Homo sapiens: one gene and its partners. The protein of the gene in region 2 interacts with the protein of the main gene of each other region in a biochemical or structural test. Each region holds a gene or a part of one and is shown on either strand. Other genes may lie near its edges.

Region 1 (7,300 bases), on a different chromosome or scaffold from region 2:
ACAGGTCAGAGCGCCCTCATTTGTGGGGCTGCCCCTCCGGGTTTCTCATCCTGTCCTTGGTGCCTTTTTCTGCCCAACAAGTCCAGGGAAGGCCGAGGTCTCAGACTCCTGGGTAGGGGTGGGGGTTTGAGTTGAGGACCAAAGTGCCATAGCGACATCCAGAACACAAGCCCACCAGGGGTCCAGCCCAGGCTACCCACTCCCCTAGGGTCTCCCAGGCTCAGAAGGGGATGCACGCCCCCTGTGGTCAAGCCTCTGGTGGGCGTCTTGCCCAGTTCCTGATGGTTCAAGGGGAGGGGGGATGTTGGCCAGGCCCCAGGGCACAGCCCTGACACAGGTGTGGCTACTGGAGGGGCCTTCATACCTGCGGCCCCAAAGCCCCTGGGCTTGGCTGTTTGAGGCAGAGGTGATGGACTCCGGGGGCCTGACACTTGGGATTTGGGAGGCTTCCTAGAGCGCTCAGCAGGTGAAGGCAGCAGGGGCCATGGCCGGGAGCCAGGCCTAGCTTTGAACTGAGTTTCAAGGGCTGCCAAAGAGGGGCAGTGGGTTGGGGTTGTTTTTACTACAAAATAAGTTACTTAGTTTTATAAAGACAAACCGATTGTAGCCAAATGACACCATATTTAATAAAATTTAGTCTGAAGTGATGTACTGTGTTTTGTGTTGCCCGATATTAAAACCAAACTTTTGTCATAGTTGGAGAATGGCCTGTGGGTATTGGAGAAGCCACCTTAGAGGTGGAATTGCGTGCGTGGCGTGCTTTGTTCAGAATAAGGAGGAAAAACCCATTGGTTGGGAGGCGGGTACAGTAGGAACCTTCCCCTCTGATTTCTGGTTAGGGACTCTGGGGTCTTGAGAACCCCTGACCCAGGGCCCTCTGCAGGAGCAGGGTGGGAGGGGCAGAGACACGTCCTGGGGGAAGTCACTGTGTGGTCGCCACTGCGGCTGCTTCCAGATGCAGGAACTGATGTGGGGACACATGGGTAGCCAAGGAGTGAGCAGCCTTTCCGGTTCACTTATGTTTGCAGCTGCGTCCTGTGAGGACACCAGGCTGTCTCTACTGACCTCACTGTGGGTCAGGGTGGCCCAGGAATTGCCAGCCGAGCACCTAGGGCAGCCAAGACAGCAGCCTGGGGTTCCCCACAGCACTGGGCCCTCAGGTGAGCACCCCAGCAACCGGACAGTGAGTGCTTGCTGCCTTTTCCCCATTCTGCTTCTTGACCCACAGGATGGTTCTTGGGGAAACAGTACACGTAATCCTATTGAAAGATATGACAGTGGGCTCTAGTTTCCTGCGCTACGAGTGTCTTCAGATTCTTTCCAGCCTGGTACTTTCACTGGCATTCTTTTGCATACACAGCCAGGCGCTGCTTTAACCAACAACAGAGATCCAGTGAGCATCTACTGAGGGGCTGTTATGGGCCCTGACTGTGCCAGGCCCTGTGACTCACAGGTACTTGGGACTCTTTGGCTCTGTACTGTTAACTTAGAGAAGAGTTTATTTCTTCTAAAAAGTTACAGCCTGACGAGAATCGCTTGAACCTGGATAGCAGAGATTGCAGTGAGCCGAGATCGCGTCACTACACTCCAGCCTGGGCGACAGAGTGAGACTGTCTCAAAATAAAAATAGTTAACAGCCTGCAAGATGGCCATCCCTCAGACTGGAAAGCACAGCCTCTGGCCAAGACCAGAGATGGGCACTTCAGAGGAGGAGGAGGAGGGGTTGGGGCAGGAGGTTTATGCTGAATGGGTTGGCTAAACATGCATATTCAGCAGGTGACAGGAGGAGCTATGAATATTCATGAAGGCAGTCCTGACGCATGCATCCTGAACAAACATACAATCCACATTCACTTTGGGGTGGAGACTTAACATTTAAAATGTATTATAATGAGGTTCTACACAGGCCAGAAGTGGTCCATCACTGTGGTCTCTTATCTGGACCAAGTTACTGAAATCAGTCTCTTGTCCAATGAAACTGTAGTTATGGCTGGTGGAATAGGGGCTGGGGGATCAGTCAGCATCCGGTGGAACTGCAAATTGGTTTTTATTGTTTTGAGACAGGGTCTTACTCTGTCGCCCAGGCTGGAGTGCAGTGGCGCCATCTGGGCTCACTGTAGCCTTGACCTCCCAGGTTCAAGGAATCCTCCCACTTCAGCTTCCGAGTAGCTGGGATCACAGGCACACACCACCATGGCCGGCTAATTTTTTTGATTTTTAGTAAAGATGAAGTCTTGCTATGTTGCCCAGGCTGGTCTCGAATTCCTGAGCTCAAGCGATCCTCCCACCTCAGCCTCCCAAAATGCTGGGATTACAGGTGTGAGCCACAGTGCCTAGCCTTTTTGTTTAAGTTTTTTGTAAAGATAGGGTCTCGCTGTTACCCAGGCTGGTCTTAAACTCTGGACCTGAAGCAATCCTTTTGGAGGCTTCAGCCTCCCAAAGTGTTGGGATCACAGGCATGAGCCATCATCTCGGCCACTGCACTGTTCCAATATTGCTTAGCTCAAGGCCAGTGCTTATTGAGCTACTAAGAGGAAAAGAAAAGCAGTGTGGCAGTAGGAATATAGTTTAAATGTAGGGTGTGTGACTTAACCCTTGCCTGGCATGACCTTAGGTCCTATTCATAATTTGGTATCTTATTGCCACTGGTGTCCCCTTGACCGCAAGGGGGTCCATTCAGTTGTTGGGGGCTTAGGATTTTAATTTTTTTTGAGACAGAGTTCTGCTCTTGTTGCCCAGGTTGGAGTACAGTGGTGCAATCTTAGCCCACTGCCTCCCGGGTTCAAACAATTCTCCTGCCTCAGCCACCCGAGTAGCTGGGATTACAAGCATGCGTCACCATGCCAGGCTAATTTTGTATTTTTAGTAGAGACAGGGTTTCTCCATGTTGGTCAGGCTAGTCTCGAACTCCCAACCTCAGATGATCCTCCCGCCTCGGCCTCCCAAAGTGTTGGAATTACAGGCATGAGCCACCGCGCCCTGCCAGGATTTTATTTTTAGTTTACAGTGTTGAGGGTTATGGGATGCCCAGGGCCTGGGGAGGAAGGGGACAGGATGTGTCCGTCCTAGTCTGAGGATGACTTTTTTGAGTTCAAAAGGGGGCGGTGGACGCACCAAGGCACAGTCCTGAGGGCAGCAGGTGCAAAAGTCCGGCCCTCCCAGAGGTGTAAGGCCTTAGAGGGATCCCAAGCATCCCTGGGGCTCAGCCTCCTGGACCTGACCCCACTGCCCACTCTTTTGGCTGGTTCCACTCTCCCCTGCATCCCTCACGTTGTCCCCAACAGGAAGCTGTGGGAACCTGTTCTCAGGTGTAGTGCACCCGTTGGGGTTCTAGTTGGCTGGATCCGCGGGGCCGTCAGCTGCAACTGTGACGGCGGGGAAGCGGGACGGGATGGTGCGGATCTACAGGACCTCGCCTCCAGGTGGAACCTACCTGCTGAGCCAGGGATTCTTCAGGATACAAACCCAGTCAACTCCAGGCAGAGGGTGGGAGCGTCATGCACCGGCGACACAGTGGAGGACGTCATGGACGGGCAGGGAGGCAGCGGCAACCGAAACTAGCGGCTCAGTCGGTGGCCGGTGTGCGGTCAACGGCCAGGGCAGTGGGACCGGAAAGACTCAGTGTAGTTGTCAACTGTTGCGACCTAAAAGGTTACTCCAAAACTTTAAGCGGCTCAAAACAATAGACGGCGCGTACGGGGCCTGCAGCGGCCACGGGACCGTGGGAAGCAGTCAGTACCCGCCACAGGCCGCGCCTTCCGGGTTCCGGGTTCCGGGTTCCCGCCAGGGAGGAGACACGCCCCCACCTGGGCAGGAACCAAGCAGAGCCGCGCTCCACCCAGGCCGGAACCAATGGGAGATGCGCCACGACCCAGGCCGAGAAACGTGCCGCTTACCCTTCCCCCACGACCTGCGCCGCGTCGCGCGCGGCCGAATCTCCCGCCAAAGCTGCCCCCGCCCGCCAAGGCGCGACCTATCAGCGTCGCAGAGGCCCGCGGCGGCCCGGCCGCCTCAATCCCGCGGGTGGGGGCAACCTTTTCCTCAGGCCTCTCCTCAGCCCACGGCGTCCATCTGGCTCCCGAGCCGAGGGCCGGGCAGTCGGGCTTCGCGGCTGCCCGCGGTCCCGAGGCCTCGCCCTAGCCCCAGTCGGCTCGCGAGGCGCGCACAGCTGAGTGGACCCCTGCGGCGTGGCCCGATGGTCTCGCCCGACCCGGCGCGCGCGGGAGGCCGAGGGGCGGGGCCCGGCGCCCACATAAAGGCGGTTGGGGGCGGGGCGCGCAGAGCTCGTGAGCGCCGGCGCGGGGACGCGGGTTTCTGCCTCAGGCCCTGCCCTGCTCTACTCTGCGCTCTCTGCCCGCGCCGCCGCCGCCTCAGCCTCGGCCCTGCGCTGCGCGCCCGGCCCGTGCTGCCATGGCCTGCCGCCCGCGAAGCCCGCCGAGGCATCAGAGCCGCTGCGACGGTGACGCCAGGTGAGGCCGGGCTGCGCGGCGGGCGAGGGAGCGCGTGCCCCGTGGGGCGGGGGTTGTGCGGGGCCGGGGTGTGGGAGGGCGGAGGTTGTAAGGCGGTCCCGAACCTCCCGTGCCCAGCCGACCGCGTCCCTCCCCGCAGCCCGCCGTCCCCCGCGCGATGGAGCCTGGGACGGAAGCGCAGAGCCGACGGCAGGCGCTGGAGGCCCGAAGACGCCGAGGAGGCAGAGCACCGCGGCGCCGAGCGCAGACCCGAGAGGTGGGCGCGGGACCCGGGGGTCGGGGCGCGGTGGGGCCCTTGACGAGGCCGCGGGCTCCAGGGACCTCGTCGCGCTCTCGCGGTGCCGGGATCGGTCAGGTCGGCACCCTGCGTCCTTTTATCTTGGTCTCCGCGCGGCCCGTGGACTGGGGCGGCCGCAGCAGGCCTGGGAGGCGCTGGAACACTCCGGAAGCCTCTTGCCAGGATGGGAGTCAGCTGAACCGGCGTCAGCCCGAGTTAGCCAGTTCGAGTCTGTGTTGTGCTCCCGGGAGAGGTCAGGGTCTCTGACGAGCTTCTCGTGAACACGTGGAAGTCAGGGACACCCGAGTCCCGAGGAGAAGTGAGTTGACAGGGCTTACCTGCTTGGCCATTTTCTGGGTTAGGCAGTGTGCAGGGAGGGTGGAGATGCGAGCGAAAGGAGGGCTTGATGGGGTGGGACGGCCGAGGAGGGTCTGGAGGAAATAAGCAGGGGTGCCAGTGGTCGTAGTGGCGGGGCTTTTCGGGGCTGTGGTTAGAGAAAACTTCTCGAGGGGCTTTGGGGTGGCTCGTCCCGCACTGGGGGCTTGTTGCTCCTGAGTTCCCTGAAAGGCGTGGTGACTTGGCCGAGATGGAGCAGTGAAGGTGGAGGGAAATGCGTGGTTCGGGATAGGCTTCTGAAGGCAGGACCTGTGAGACTTGCTGATGGGTTGGGGATGGGAGGCGTGAAAGGAAAAAAAAAAATCGGACCCAACTTCACTGTGCCAAAAGGAAAAAATTATGCTGAGCGCGGAATCATGCAAGAAACTACCTTTGCGTTACTTTTTTTTTTTTTTTTTTTTTTTTAAAGACAGGGTCTCACTCTGTCTCACAGGCTGGAGTGCGGTGACGCGATCTTGGCTCACTGCAGCCTCCCCCTCCCGGGTTCAAGTGATTCTCCTGCCTCAGCCTCCCCAGCAGCTAGGATTACAGGCGCATGCCACCGCGCCCGGCTAACTTTTTGTATTTGTAGTAGAGACAGGGTTTCACCATGTTGACCAGACTGGTGTCGAACTCCTGACCTCAAGTGATCCACCCACCTTGGCCACCCAAAGTGCTGGGATTACAGGTGTGAGCCACCGCGCCCGGCCACCTTTGTGTTTCTTTTTTTTTTTCTAAGCAGATACCTACAGATACAAGATTAAATATCTCCACGGGTGAACTCTGTTCACTTTAAGTGGCGACTTACTGAGCACACTAGGAATACATAATTGACTATTCCCCTACCTGCTCCTTTTCTCTTGGAACATGTAGATCTTTCTCCTTCAACCTACTTTTCTCTTTTAAATATTGAAGCCCTGACAGTCATCTCTGGAGAAAGGCACAGACCACAGACTCTTTCTGTAATTTCGTGTTCTTCTAGGTATGTCCTTAACATTAGCTAAATTCCTAAAGCAATTGAGACCTGTCTCAGACACTTTTTGGTTTACACAGGAAAGAGGCATCAAGAATGACTCAAGCCTTTAGGTCTGAACGCTGTTGATTGGGGCCATTTGCTAAGATAGAGAAGATGGGCTGGAGCAGCTAGGCATGGGAAGTTGTGAGGCTTGAGAAGCTGCTTAGAGAAGCAAAGGAGATGTCAAGAAAGGTAACGGAGTGTAGGAGTCTACATGGGAGGCATCTTCAGGCACAGTGAGTTACCAGGACATAGAGATGATATTTAGAGACTTGGGTCTAGGGGGCTGGGCGCAGTGGCTCCTGCCTGTAATCCCAGCACTTTGGGAGGCCAAGGCGGGCCCATCACCTGAGGTCAGGAGTTCGACACCAGCCTGACTAACATGGAGAAACCCCATTGTTGGGGACCAGCCTCGACACTTACCCGGAATGAGAAGAGACAGGTTAAGAGCTCATAAAGGTGGGAGCCAGGGGACCAGTTGGAAAATGGAGGCTGCAAAAGGCCCGGAGTTGCGGTCTCCACACTATTTATTGAGTACAATCACTTTAAGAAGTAGGCCGGGCGCGGTGGCTCATGCCTGTAATCCCAGCGCCTTGGCAAAAGGCGGGTGGATCACGAGGTCAGGAGATGGAGACCATCCTGGCTAACACGGTGAAAACCCGTCTCTACTAAAAATACAAAAAATTAGCCGGGCGTGGTAGCGGGCGCCTGTAGTCCCAGCTACTCAGGAGGCTGAGGCAGGAGAATGGTGTGAACCCGGGAGGCGGAGCTTGCGATGAGCCGAGATCGCCCCACTACACTCCAGCTGGGGCAATAGAGCGAGACTCCGTCTCAAAAAAAAAAAAAAAAGAAGTAGATGTTCAGGGTGAAACAGTGAAAGGGAGGCAGGCGTCATAGGCGTAATTATAGCGGTTTCAATGAATCTCCTTTGTGCTCAAACAGCATATCTAACTTATTGGAGAGTAGCTAGTGGGAGCGGGCTTAACTAGGAGCCTGCAAATCTGTCCACATTCCAGTGCTTTAAAGGAATGTCTTTCTTCTTGAACACTGTTTACAGATAAGAGAGCAGGTCTCGCTCTGAGCATGGGAACATGATGGCAATTAGGAGGCTTTCCTCCTCAGAGGCCTCTTGTGGCTTTTCACAACTTACTGTGCCATATTTTT
Region 2 (7,021 bases):
CGGGATTACAGGTGTGAACCACCGTGCCCGGCCTACTTTTTGTATTTTTTGTAGAGATGGGGTTTTGCCATGTTGCCCAGGCTGGTCTCAAACTCCTGGGCTCAAGCGATCCATCAGCTTTGGCTTCCCAAAGTGCTAGGATTACAGGCATGAGCCACCACACCTAGCTTGTTTATTCTTTTAAAACTGCCTATTTTGCCATGAAATAGGTACCCTTGCTGTGAAAGCCTGTGAACACCCCTGGATGTGTGTACCTTCATTTAAAAACTGCCTTAGAGGGCATGAAATGTCATCAGGGAAGATCTATTCCGAGCTGGGTGTGAGCTCTAGCCCTCTCCCTGACCATCGGTTTGCTCTGGGGTATGAGGTTCTGAGTGTGAGGCGCCCACTGGGGCCTGGCGTCAGGGCCGACTTGCTTCTCTTAGGCTCTGCGTTCAGGGGCTACCTCTTCCAAAGACTACACAGCTGCAGGCCCAGCCTCAGAGCAGAGGTGATATGGGTATTACCAGGCTCTAATGGAAAGTGTGCTCTCTCGATATCTACTTGCAGGGAAGCTTCTGAAATTGGTAAGGGAGCACCTATTGCAAGGCTCAGTGAACAAATGGTTTTGGTATTTCCCTTTTTCATGGGGCACCAGAAGGGTATTTTCTCCTACACAGGATCGCATCTGAAGACTTTGCTGAACTGTGTTTTCCTGAAGTGAGGAGATGAAAGACCTCAGATAGGAAAAACAGAGAGTGAGAGAGAGAGACAGACACTGAGCCAGGTTCCCACACAGTTTATTGAGGGAGCCAAAGCCAGTGAGAGGACGAAGGAGTCCTACTTCAACCTACTTCCTTAAAGCTGTGTGCCTCCAGCATGAAGGGACCTTCCCAGAGGGCAGGGCCTGCCCTATAAGGGGCCACATGAAGCCTTGTGGAGACTCCTGCCTCTCATACCACAGCCTGTCCTACCCTAAAGACCCAGACATGACAGCAGACATAATCCCCACCCCAGGAGGGTGCTGAGGAAACACCCTTACCCATGCCCCTCCCCTAGAGACCTCAGGAAGAAAGGCCAGGACACCTGTCCTGTGATTGGCCAGTTGAATCCTCAACGTGAAGACCTGGCAGGCCTGGCTGACAGGTCTGTTCAGATGTGGCCTCAGGCATCTACTCTAGGATCCAACCCCTAACATTCAAACATGATTAAAAACACCCAGGACACTTCTCTTGCTGGCAGAGGCCACACCCCAGATAATGGCAGTCCTGCCAAACTCTGGCCAGAGATAGGGACCCAAGCTGACTGGGTGTGAGCACGTAAGGAGACCACTCTGCCCCATGGGGAGAATCTTCCAGGGCTCAGCTGAGGCTCAGAGCCCAGGCTTATGTTATTCCCCATCAAATGCCAGTGATTCCTCCAAACATTCCCCACAAGGGAGAAAGGGAGGAGGAGGCAGAGAGCTTATCAAGAGGTTCACCCTATATGGGGCTGGAGGTTGGATCTACTGGGGTGAGGAAAAGGGTGTAGAGGATTGGGGCACTGGGGCAGGGGCGCTGGCACATTCCTCAGATTCTGGCATGTCATCCTGGAAGTACTCAGCCTGGCGGTACTGCCACAGACGCAGGTTCCCGTCCCACTGCAGGGCAGAGGGTGGCAAGCAGTCAGGATGTGCTGCCCCCACCCAAGTCCAAGCCCCAGACATGTGCCAGCACCCTCAACCCTTGCAACCTCACCGAACTGCTGACAATCTTCTCTTCAAAGGGGTGCCAACTGACGTCACGCACACAGGCCTTGTGGTTGGTCAGCTTCTTCACAATGTGGCCACTTAGAAGGTCGTACACTGTCCAGGACAGGCAAGAGTGGAGAGGGACCACCACAAGACATCTAAACTATCCCTCACCTCCCCATGAGTAGCACCACTGACCTGCCTCTCAGGCAACTTCCCATGTTCCCATGGGAGCAAAGCCCACACCAGAAGACTGTGTTATTTCTGCTTCTATCCCTGTTCCTTTCCATACCTTGGGTTGAGGGTATGGTTTAGTGGTGTGGGTATGTCTGGCCCTTAGCTAAATTTCATAGGGGCTACAGTTAAGGAAATGCACTGGCTTTGAAGATTTTAGTAAGATATGGAAGGCACCACAAAAGTGAACAATGAGCTGTCTGGGGGTGTGTGCACCTGCTGCACCTTATCTGGACAGGGTGCATCTTTCTTTTGTCATGGGACTGTGAGTGTCTCTCTAGGGACAGCACTGCCTTAGGCTCCTTGTATCTGCAGCTGTGCTTCTGGTTTTTTTTTTCTTTTTCTTTTTTTTTTTTTTTTGAGATGGAGTCTCGCTCTTGTTGCCCAGGCTAGAGTGCCGTGGCGCGATCTTGGCTCACTGCAACCTCTGCCTCCCGGGTTCAAGCGATTCTCCTGCCTCAGCCTCCTGGGCTCAAGCGATTCTCCTGCCTCAGCCTCCCAAGTAGCTTGTGATTACCAGCGCCTGCCACCATGCCTGGCTAATTTTTGTGTTTTTAATAGAGATGGGGCTTCACCATGTTGGCCAGGCTGGTCTCAAACCCCTGACATCAGGTGATCTGCCCGCCTCGGCCTCCCACGGTGCTGGGATTACAGGCATGAGCCACCGTGCCCGACCTTTTTTTTTTTTTTTTTGAGACAGTTTCTCACTCTGTCACCCAGGCTGAAGTGCGGTGGCACAATCATGGCTCACTGCAGTCTCGGGCTCAGGTGATTCTCCCACCCTAGCCTCCCAAGTAGCTGGGACTACAGGCCTGTGCCACCATGTCCAGCCATTTTTTGTAGAGACAAGGTTTCTCCATGTTGCCCTGGCTGGTCTCAAACTCCTGGGCTCAAGTGATCTGCCCTCATTGGCCTCCCAAAGCCCTGGGGTTACAGGCATGAGCCACTGCAGCCAGCTTATTTCTTTCTATGCTTTTCTGCTTTAGCGACTGCATGTCCCTTAACTACTTGCTACCATCTTCCTGTGTCATTTTGTCTCTGTTCCCTCCTACCTTTCATCTGCAACCTCTTTCTTGACTGGCTGAAAAACAGAACCAACTATATTTTTGGCAATCTATTATATTTACTGTCTAGAATTCTATGTTCCTTTTCTTAATTTAAAACACTGAAAAATAGAATGGTTTCTATTTCTCTGTTTAAGCCTCCAAGCTAAGTTTGATTTTACCTGTAGCTGTCACTGGGCTTTTTAAGGTGGTCACTAGTCGTTATAGGTGGAATGGCAAGGAGTCATTCCTGCCCTTCCTGAGGCCCCCTGTTCTGACACAATCCTTACCAACCACTTTGCCAGTGGAGCAGCCACTGTAGATGAACTGCTGGCCAGTGCTATGAATGGGGGAGAACCGGCAGCGGATGAGGGTGTGCAGCACTCCGTGGCCCCGGTAGGTCATCAAGGAGCTGTCCCCTGGGAGCTTCAGCTTCCGCCAGGCTGGGTAGGGATGCAGAGTAAACCCTAGGTTAGGAAATCTGCTTTGGGATTGTTTCGTACCACCAGTCCTGAGCAAGGTTCGATGCCCAGAGACAAATGCCTTTCCAATCTTCAAGTGGTGGCTCTTTCTCCACCTAATAGTCAGTGGACAGTCTCCAATATGGCCCTGCCGGTTAATCATTACACTCACATACTTTTATATTGGTTGATTCTGAGTGACCCCCACCCAGGCCCCAATCCTAGGAACCTCTGGCCATTCCATCCATGATTTAGCAAATAAAGAGTTAATGCCTGGCAAAGAGGGCTGAGGGGGAGGTCCTCCAGGGCTCCCAGGCTACAGACAAATCCACTGTGCCTGTACTTCCAGTCTCACCTTTTTTGGGCACTTGCTGCCACCGATAGTCCCAGTTTTGCTGTGTGGCAGCCTGGCGTGAAGCTTCCATGCCTTCCCGGCTGGAAAAGCGTCGGATATCCCAGAGTTTGATGGTCTGGTCTTTAGAGTTGGAGATCAGATACCGGGCATCACCCTATGAATCCAAAGGTGGATAGTGAAGCATCAGAGCTTGCAAATGTCGGCGCCTGTCAGTCTAGTTCCCGTTCTCTAGTTGAGCAGAAGAACTCTGGCCTCTGGCTTTACTTGCCTCTCTTCATCCAGGTGAACTCATTTCCAGCGTTCTGCCTCAGATCCTACCACCTGGCTAGGTTTTCCTTTCCTTGCCCAGGCTACTGGCCGGCTTTCCTATTCTAGCCTTAATCAGATTGTCTTCCATTTTTCTTTTTTTAATTTTTAATTAACTAATTTTTTTTTGAGATGGAGTCTTGCTCTGTCACCCAGGCTGGAGTGTAGTGGGGTGATCTCGGCTCACTGCAAGCTCCGCCTCCCGGGTTCACGCCATTCTCCTGCCTCAGCCTCTTGAGTAGATGGGACTACAGGCGACTGCCACCACACCCAGCTAATTTTTTTGTATGTTTAGTAGAGACGGGGTTTCACCATGTTAGCCAGGATGGTCTCGATCTCCTGACCTCGTGATCTGCCCGCCTCGGCCTCCCAAAGTGCTGGGATTACAGGCATGAGCCACGGCATCTGGCCTTAGTTTTTTTTTTTTGTTTTTTTTTTTAAATAAATAGAGATGAGGTCTCGCTAGGTTTCACAGGCTGGTCTGGAACGCCTGAGCTCAAGTGATCCTCCCACCTCAGCCTCCCAAAGTGCTAGGATTACAGGTGTGAGCCGCTGTACCTGACCGGTCTTCCATTTTTCTTGTACGGAAAGCCCTGCCCTGCTCCTTGAGGACTGGTGAGTACAGATGGAATTCATGTTCCCTGGCTTGAGCCCCTTCCCTAAACTCCAACTCTTACAAACCTTGGTTAATAAGGAGCTTGTCAAATTCCCACACCAGTCCGCTTTCATGCCCTCCTGGGCAACTAGAACCTTAGCGGCCTGGCTGTACAGTCCTGACTTCTGGCCCACCTTGCTGTCAATGAAGGTGATGCCATCCTGGTGTCCAGCCAGTGCACCCACAGGCTTGGGGTCATCCTCCCGCATGGTGCGTCGATCCCACACTTTGCAGATGGCATCATCTCCCCCAGAGAACAGGATTTGGGAGCTTATATCAGCAAAGGCCACTGCATTCACATCATCCTCATGGGACTCAATCTAGGCGAAAAGGAGGCCAGGATATAAGACCTCTTTCTAGGTCTTATAAAAAGCCAAAAACCAGGAGGCAGAGGCTCTATCTCAGGAGCCATACCTGAAGGGTGCGCCGGTTCTGTTCTCGGTCAAAGACATACAGGCAGCCATCATTGGCCCTGAAAGGGAAGGGATAAAGGAGGGTCCTGGAGCCATGATCGAGAGGACCAACGTGGTATATGCTCTAGAGAGTTCCACTGAGAAATCCTGCTCTGGGTCAAGCCCTTTGCTCTTTTTATACAGGAAGTGGGGGAAGAGTTAGCTGTGTTTCAAGGAGGCTTGACACCTCCAATCTCGTGCTGGGGAAATGGAGAGCAAGGGGTGAAGCAACTTGTAAATCCTGACCTTGGGAGAAGGTCTGGTTGTTCTCTGCAGCTGCCAGTGCCATCTGTGTAACAGCAGAACTCATCTCTGGCAGAACCCCCATCTTGTTATTGAGGGAAACATACCCCACAAGCACTTACCCTCCTAGTACTTCTCGTCCATCTGAGGAGACAGCAATGGAGAAGACAGCAAAGCGACGCTCATCTGGCCTAAAAGCAAGAAGGAGCTGGGTTAAGTGGACTTCCTTCAGCTTTTGTTAATCTACATAAAATCTGACAACGGTTGTAAGGCACATCCCCAGGGGAAAAAAGAAGTCTGGCTAACATGCACCATAATGCAGATGCTCAGTGAGAACCCAGAAATCATCCTGCAACCATCTATTTTACCCAGTCCTCTGGCTGACAAGATGGTGCTTCCCTCCCAGGAATGCACACAGACCCACCAGTATACTTTTTCCCCTAAACAGAACTTCCAACTCAAGAGGTTTGCTCCCAAAGAGCTTCCCTTGAGAAGTTTCTGATGAGTCTGACCAGAAAGGGAAGCCAGTACCTGAGATCCAGGGCAGTGTGTGTATCTCCCTCACCATAGATATTGCAGATATGAACTAAGAGAAGCAAGAAAAACAAGAATCTTTCAGGGATGGGGGAAGAAGAGTGGAAGTGAAGCTAGGGAAGAGATCAAACAGGGGACAAGGGTACTGGAGCACTTTGGGAGTGATTTTCCCAGGACAAAGTGAGGGATCCTGGCTCAGAGGGGACAGGCACATGGAAACCTCAGGTCCCAGGCTGGAGAGTCAGTGGAAGCCTGGTGCATACTCACTGTAATCAGACCAGCTAGAGTAGAGGAAGTGGTTCCCATCAGGGGTGAAGGCCACATCCAAGACGCTCCAGCCTACGTCGCGGGCCTTGATGCTCTTGAATTTACGGAAACGGCCATATCGGCAGTCATAGAGTCGGATTGTCTGGTCTGTGTAAGTAAAGATCAGGCAGAATTATGGGACAGTTTCCTTGTAACTTTTCTAGATTAGACATCTCCCACTCAGTGTACCTGTGGAGTCTTCCCTTTATCATGGGAAACATGGTCTGGCTAAGCATCCTTAAGCCAGGTCTGAGCTCCCCGTCTGTGGCTTTCTAGCCTCAGTCAGGGGGAATGTCCCATGTTCCAGGAAAAGATAGTTTATAGGACCAGGGTCTGGTACCTTGGCAAGCAGACATGAATATTTGACCATCTTTGCTGTAGATGCCACAGAAAGCCTTCTGAGAGTAGCTATCAGTGAAGCCCAGATCATTGGGCAAGAAGCTAGGGAAGGAGAGAGAAAGTGAGGGTGAGGGGTGCTCAGGATAAGGAGTGTCCCAATCAGCAGAATCCTAACAGAGCTGGAATATCAGAACAGTCATTCTTCCCTTTTGGCTGTGAGTGCAATCCCGTCTTTCAACCATTCCACCATCCTCTAAATTTCTACAATTTTCTACACTTTTCTACTTTGTTTACTCTCAAAGTTTCAACCCCATTTAACCTAACCTTTAATATCTCTGAGGCTCCTTTAACACCTACCCCTTCAAAGTTTAGGAGATAAGACCTA
Region 3 (7,021 bases), on a different chromosome or scaffold from region 2:
CTGGAAAGATACCCAAAAAACTAATAATGTCTGTCACAAAGAGAACTAACTAGGGGACTGGAGGATGGGGTGGAAGTGAGACTTCTCACTACATGCTCTGCAATACTTTCGGGGCTTTGAACCAGAGGAATATATCAGGTATTCAAAAAACTTAAATACTTGCCTTCCCCAATAAAAGCCTTTCTAACTTCCCCACCACCATACTTTTTAGCATGGTGTTCAAGGCAAATCTTACCACTTTCATCTCATGTCTGATTATAACTTTTCTTTTTTCTTTTTTTTTTAGATGGAGTCTTGCTCTGTCGCCCAGATTGGGGTGCAATCTTGGCTCAGTGCAACCTCTGCCTCCAGGTTCCAGTGGTTCTCCTGTTTCAGCCTCTCAAGTAGCTGGGATTACAAGCATGCGCCGCCACACTCAGCTAGGTTTTTTTGCATTTTTAGTAGAGATGGGGTTTTACCATGTTGGCCAGGCTAGTCTCGAACTCCTGACTTCAAGTGAACTGTTCACCTCAGCCTCCCAAAGTGCTGGATTACATGCATGAGCCACCTTGGCCACCCGATTATAACCTTTCACACATCCTTTGATCCAAGTACTCTACTTTTCTCACCTTTAGGCAAGATTTGGAGTGGTGTCTGTAAAACAGTGGCTTCCAAAATGTTTTGACCCAAAGCCACAGTAGGAAATCTAATGTCACAATCCATCATACATAAATTTATGTAACTAAAATAAAATCTTCACGAACCTACACATCATTACTCTATGTGATGCATTCTGATATTTGCTATTTCATTTCTTTTTAAAAAATGCTGGTCACGAACTATTAATTTCATGAACCTATTAGAACATAAGTAACTTAGGGTAGGTACTTATGCTCTCTTACTAGTACTAAGTGCTTTCCATAACCCCAAGGTATCAGTCCAGTTTTGGACACAGTAAGCAGTCATGGATTGAACAAGGAATGACTGTTTACTAAGTACTCTTCATCCTATTACATGCTGGGATGGAAACAGGAATAAGAAGGTGTTTGAGATAAGCTCTATTTTACTCTAGATCTTTGAAAAGCACTTTTACAAATATATTCTTTTAAATATTATGTATTTATTATTTATGTATTTTTACATATTATGCATTGTTTTATTTAAATATTATGTATTATTTATGTATTTTTACATATTATGCATTACGTATTTATTATTTACACTAATAAAACACTTTGGGAATCTCTGGAAGTAACCTCTTGCCTCACAAACAACTATTTGTAATAAACAGATTCTAGATAACTGCAACCTCTGCCTCCTGGGTTCAACCGATTCTCATGCCTTAGCCTTCCCAGTAGCTCGGATTACAGACACGTGCCACCACACCTGGCTGAATTTTGTATTTTTGGTAGAGACTGGGTTTCACCATGTTGGCCAAGCTGGTCTTGAATGCCTGACCTCAGGTGATCCGCCCACCTTGGCCTCCCAAAGTGTTGGGATTTCAGGCGTCAGCCACCGCACCCAGCCTTACAAGTCTTTTTAATAAAACTATCTTTTTATTTAAGCTCCCACTAATTACCAGTAAATATGCTGCCTTAAATCCTTTGAAGGTACTTAGGTATAAAATACAGGCATTCTAGCAAGCTTCTAACCCTTATTCTTCCAAATCCCAGCCCTTCCCCTCCAAAATCCACAGGATACATAAAAAATGTGTCTTTCTTCACAAGGATGAGCTAAAAAAAAGTGTCTGAAAAAAAAACACAGTCAAAAAATATATATAAACGTGTAGCAAATGACATATGCAAATATTTACTGAACAACAGACAATAAAAAAGATACTGAATTTCCACCAGGGTGTTGAACTCTGGTCACTGGTCTAAGGAGTGGAGTCTTAGTTTTCGAGCTATGTTTACAGATAGTAAGTAAAGCACATAACAAAAAATTCAACAACTGATATAGCAATAAGATCTACATTATCTCTCTTTTTATGTCAAGTAAATATGGCTAAGATACTCTAAGTATTCAAAAACTAAGAATCTGTTTAAAGGAAACCAACTATACAATGAAACCTAAACTCCTTTTCTTTTTACTTCCAGTAAACAGGACTTAAATAAGACTGAAAATTATCAAGGACTAAGAATTTGTAAGTGCACATTTTAAAATTTTTTATTATTTAATAATCTATTGTATATTTCAAAATAACAAAGAGTAGAATTTTAGTTGTACATTTTAAAAAACAGCAACAATAGTACTGATTAACGATTCAGTAAAAAGAGAAATACATAATACATAATAGACTAAGCTTTAAGACATCAACAGGGTGACAAAAGTTACACAGACTCCAACAGCTAGTCATCAACAATGCTAAGAATCTAACTGCTTTCTTAATAATCACTGACTGCTTAAGCAACCAGATTTTACAATTGATAATAACCTATACTATTTGATTCTAGTCCTGTGGTCATCTACTCTATAAATGAATCGTTAATAGAAAGGTTCATCATTTAAGGTTTATTTCACAAAAAGGTAACTACAGTTCCCATTATTAATAATAAATAAAATTATTTTCATCAGAATTGAAGTATGGCCTAGGCTTGACTTTAAAAATAGCTAGAGATTTATAGGAAAGATAAATGTTACACGCTCCTGTACAAACTTCCAGCATCTCCAAAAAAGGTAGCTGATCTTAAACACTGTAGTAGGCCAGACATGGTGGTTCATGCCTGTAAGCCTGGCACTTTGGGAGGCCAAGGCGGGATGACTGCTTGAGGCCAGGAGTTCGAGAACAGCCTGGGCAACATAGCAAGACCCCCATATCTCTATTTAAACAAAACAAAACAAAACACTGCGGCTACTCATACAAAAGTTGAGAACATGAGCTCATAATAGGATTATGAAAATAATCCTATTTAAAATATTACTTATTAATAGTAAAAAAACTCACACCAAAACCAAAATTCCAACTGTATGATACCACATGTGAAAACAAGACACATTCTTTTTAAGCGTAGAGGGACACTGTTCCTAGAGAGTTCCTGTCTTTTTCTATTATTTTTTCAATTTCGCTAATGGTGTCTACTGAAGCACATTTGGAATGTAATCTATTTATCAGACAGCTGCTCTGGCCCAGTGTAGATTTAGAATTTAAAATCGTGTGGCTTCAGAGCTCTAAAATAAAATGTAATTTTAAAATAAAGATTTCTTTTCTAAAGACTCAAATATCTACTATCATTGATGACACATACCAATATATAGCAGGAACTGTGATAATTACTTTTTTGCAATATTTCATTTACGTCTAAAAAACCCTACCATATAGGTAGCCGTTAGTCTCACCATCTTGTAAATGAGGAAACCAAGACTTAGAGAAGTAACTCGCCCAAAGTTATATGATGAGTGACAGATTTGTAACCTAAGGCAGGCTGGACAGCTCAAAAGTCAGTGCATTTAATCAGTCTTATTTGCAGTCAATTAAAAACAAGCACGCAAACAAACAAAACAGTCAAATGAAAACATTAATCACTGCCTCACACCCACAGGATCTCAAGGTTGTCAAGGAAAGATAATTTTAAAACTCAGGTCCAATTCTAATTTAAAATTACTTTAAAAAGACAATGTTTGCTTACTGCAAGTGTACTTAGAACAGCATGTTCTTTTATAGAAATTAAAAACTTAGTAGGCAGTACATGCAACCCACACTAGGGACTTCCATACTTAAAGCTTTAAAGCAAAATGTTTTTTCATGCAGAAGTAAGTTCTAAGCAGATATATGCCAGTAAGTGTTTACCTCAGAGAAAGAGGGTGGGACAGGGGTTTGGAGAACTTTTGTATAACTACATATTTCCACATTATTTCAATTTTAGAAGAGTACTTTTTCTTATGTTTTTATTTCCCACTCAGGTAGATTGAGAGAGTACTTCTAATTACGTTTCAATGAGTCAAAATCAAACAAGCACCTGAAGTCCAGATTATATGAAATAGCTTTACCTCCTTTATCCTCCTGTTTGAACTTGAACATCTCAAAATAATCTTTCTGAGAACAATCCAAAGGAACATTTATAAAATTAAGGTCAAAAACAGTAAAAGAGCTAAAAACCAATGCTTTTGAATTCATTATAGCAAAAGCAGTAAGGTATTATGAAAAATGCAAACAGTGAAGTTATAAGACTTGTGACTAGGCTAAAGAAATGCAACTGAACAACAGCAGGTAAAACTTACGAAGTACAAGAAAACAAAAACAAGAGATGCAAGCTCTATGCTCTTGAAAGAAAAAGATTTAACAGAATCAATGTATCAGGAAAAGTATTTTCAAATCAAAAGCTCTGGAAAAATATTCAAGGTAAAGTAAATAGGGTTAATTAATAACCACAATAAACATTTGTTACAAATATGGAATATATAAAATATTATTGAAATTAAATATGCTGTATACCAGCATATCCAAATAAACACCATATACTATCCAAATAAACACCACTTATGCATGCACAGATAAAAATACTACTAAAATTATAAAGAGCTTTTTCCCTAAAGTAAAACAATTTAATTGTTTCAAACACTGCACTACAGTGGTATTCAAAGTACCAGGGTATATTAGTGAGGTGGTACAGGAGTAAAAGTGCAATGAACTAGAAATCCAGCATCTCAGTTTGAGTTGCCCCTGCTCTGCCAATATGTGACTCTGGGCAGGTTATTCAACTTCTCTGAGACTCAGTCTCCTCATCAATAAAGTGGGGATAGGCCAGGCGCGGTGGCTCACACCTGTAATCCCAGCACCTTGGGAGGTGGAGGCGGGTGGATCACTTGAGGTCAGGAGTTCGAGATCAGCCCGGCCAACATGGTGAAACCCTGTCTCTACTAAAAATACAAAAACTAGCAGGGCGTGGTGGCAGGCGCCTGTAATTCCACCTACTTGGGAAGCTGAGGCAAGAGGATCACTTGAGCCCGGGAGGTGGAGGTTGCAGTGAGCCGAGATCACGCCACTGCACTCCAGCCTGAGTGACATAGCAAGACTCCATCTCAAAAAAAAAAAAAAAAAAAAGTGGGGATAGTAACTACTACCCTACGTACCCCAGAAAGGGTTTCCATAATGCTTATATGAGATAATACGAGATGAATCCCCTTTGCAGGCTGTCATGGACACCACAAAGAAAAAATATTGGACCACATGCTCTCTTAAGGCCTTTCCAAGTCAGTTTCATATTTTGGCTTTTATTGTTGTACATTTTAAGAGACGCATATATAATACGCCAAAAGAGCCATATGAAATGGGCTTATTCTTAAGTAATAGCTTAGTACTACAACTACTAGCCGACATTTGCATAGCATTATAATGCTTATAATGTTACACGGCATTATTACTATGTGTTGTGCACTGATTTGAGTATTTTGCGTGTACTAATTTTCACAGCAACAGAAACTGGTGATCTCAATTGTCATACTACAAGTGAAGAAGCTATAATGTGGCTTGTAAAAAAGTTTGACTCGTGATACCATCTTATATTTGTAAGATTATAGTGCCTGGAGGCGTTTTCCACAAATATCTTATTTGATTCTTATCAGCAACCTTGTGAGACAGGTAGGGCAAACTATTATTTCCTCTACTTTAGAGAGGAGGAAATTTAAATTGAGAGTGACGGCTGGGTTTGGTAGCTCATGCCTGTAATCTCAGCACCTTGGGAGGTTGAGGTGACAAGACTGCTGTAGCCCTGGAGTTCAAGACCAGCCTGGGCAACATAGCAAGACCCCTATCTCTTAAAAAAACAGGAAAAAAAACTGAGAGGGCTTTAGTACCTGGCCCAAGATTATGAGGGTAACAGCAGTCAAAACTAGATCCCAAACCCATCTTCTGACTCCTAATCCAGGTTTACCCATCACCATACTAGCTCTGCAACTAAAATATACAAATACTGATAAATAAAACCAACATAATTTCTTACAAGGTACTCATCAATACAAAAATTCAAGCTATTGTACTCTGAAGTATATATATATTTTTTTTTTTTTTTGAGATGGAGTTTCACTCTTGTTGCCCAGGCTGGAGTGCAATGGTGCAATCTCGGCTCACCGCAACCTCTACCTCCTGGGTTCAAGCGATTCTCCTGCCTCAGCCTCCTGAGTAGCTGGGATTACAGGCATGCACCACATTGCCTGGCTAATTTTGTATTTTTAGTAGAGACGGGGTTTCTCCATGTTGGTCAGGCTGGTCTCGAACTCCTGACCTCAGGTGATCTGCCAGCCTTGGCCTCCCAAAGTGCTGGGATTACAGGTGTGAGCCACCGTGCCCGGCCTGAAGTATCTTTTAACACCAAATCCCTGACACTCTAATGAAAGTAACTTCTTGAATTGGTTGTGTGTCAAATACACAGTAGGGAAAAATTTCTTGGTAGCAAGGGATTGCCCTTAGGAACTGCCCTTAAAATTATATTTAAGTGTAAGGACCCATTTGCTAAGTAAAGAATCTGAACCTCAGACTAAGCTGCTGGACTACAAACTGCTACTCATTTCTGGGCTAAGGTGCGTCTTGTAGCCCAGGTATTAGAAAAATGTAAAGAGCAAGAAAAAGAAATGGCAAAGTCTACTATTAAGAAGGAGGTAGAATAAAGGATATGAATAATATCTGCATGTCTTGAGGCCTTTCCTATGGGTAGGTAACACAACTAAGAAACAATTATCACAATAGAATGACATGTCACCAGAAATCATCTTTGGGATTCATGCTATAGGATTACATTATAGGTAGAACTTCTATTACACCAAGGTACACGTAACTGTAATTTCTTATCAGGAGGGTCAAATATAAGCACAACTTATACTGGTATGACTGTACCCATGGTTTATGTGAGAATACGTGGTCTAATTATAGAGTTCATCAATTAATGGAGAAACTAAAATTAGAAGGGAACCAAAAGTCTACTTAAGAACCTATTTCAGAAAGCAAAATCCATATACATCCCACCTCAATTTATGTTAATCAAATCTGGTTATGCATATTAATACATACCTGGTAGAGTTCTTCTAAATTGTACTTAATTGAAGTACT

What was found.
Region 1: the proteins of DCAF11 (region 2) and SLBP form a complex in vitro, tested with the Homo sapiens proteins (2 studies listed by BioGRID, with this or other methods).
Region 3: the proteins of DCAF11 (region 2) and CUL4B form a complex in vitro, tested with the Homo sapiens proteins (one study listed by BioGRID).

Annotation. Positions count from the first base shown.
Region 1 is NC_000004.12:1,709,299-1,716,598, reverse strand, and holds the start of SLBP (histone RNA hairpin-binding protein), read left to right. Parts: upstream 1-4,279; 5' UTR 4,280-4,410; coding exon 4,411-4,469; intron 4,470-4,608; coding exon 4,609-4,725; intron 4,726-7,300. UniProt on the Homo sapiens protein: RNA-binding protein involved in the histone pre-mRNA processing.
Region 2 is NC_000014.9:24,117,772-24,124,792, reverse strand, and holds part of DCAF11 (DDB1- and CUL4-associated factor 11), read right to left. Parts: intron 6,739-7,021; coding exon 6,638-6,738; intron 6,406-6,637; coding exon 6,259-6,405; intron 6,044-6,258; coding exon 5,989-6,043; intron 5,649-5,988; coding exon 5,580-5,648; intron 5,235-5,579; coding exon 5,177-5,234; intron 5,083-5,176; coding exon 4,897-5,082; intron 3,956-4,896; coding exon 3,802-3,955; intron 3,429-3,801; coding exon 3,276-3,428; intron 1,823-3,275; coding exon 1,716-1,822; intron 1,619-1,715; coding exon 1,484-1,618; 3' UTR 1-1,483. UniProt on the Homo sapiens protein: May function as a substrate receptor for CUL4-DDB1 E3 ubiquitin-protein ligase complex.
Region 3 is NC_000023.11:120,550,942-120,557,962, forward strand, and holds part of CUL4B (cullin-4B), read right to left. Parts: coding exon 6,983-7,021; intron 1-6,982.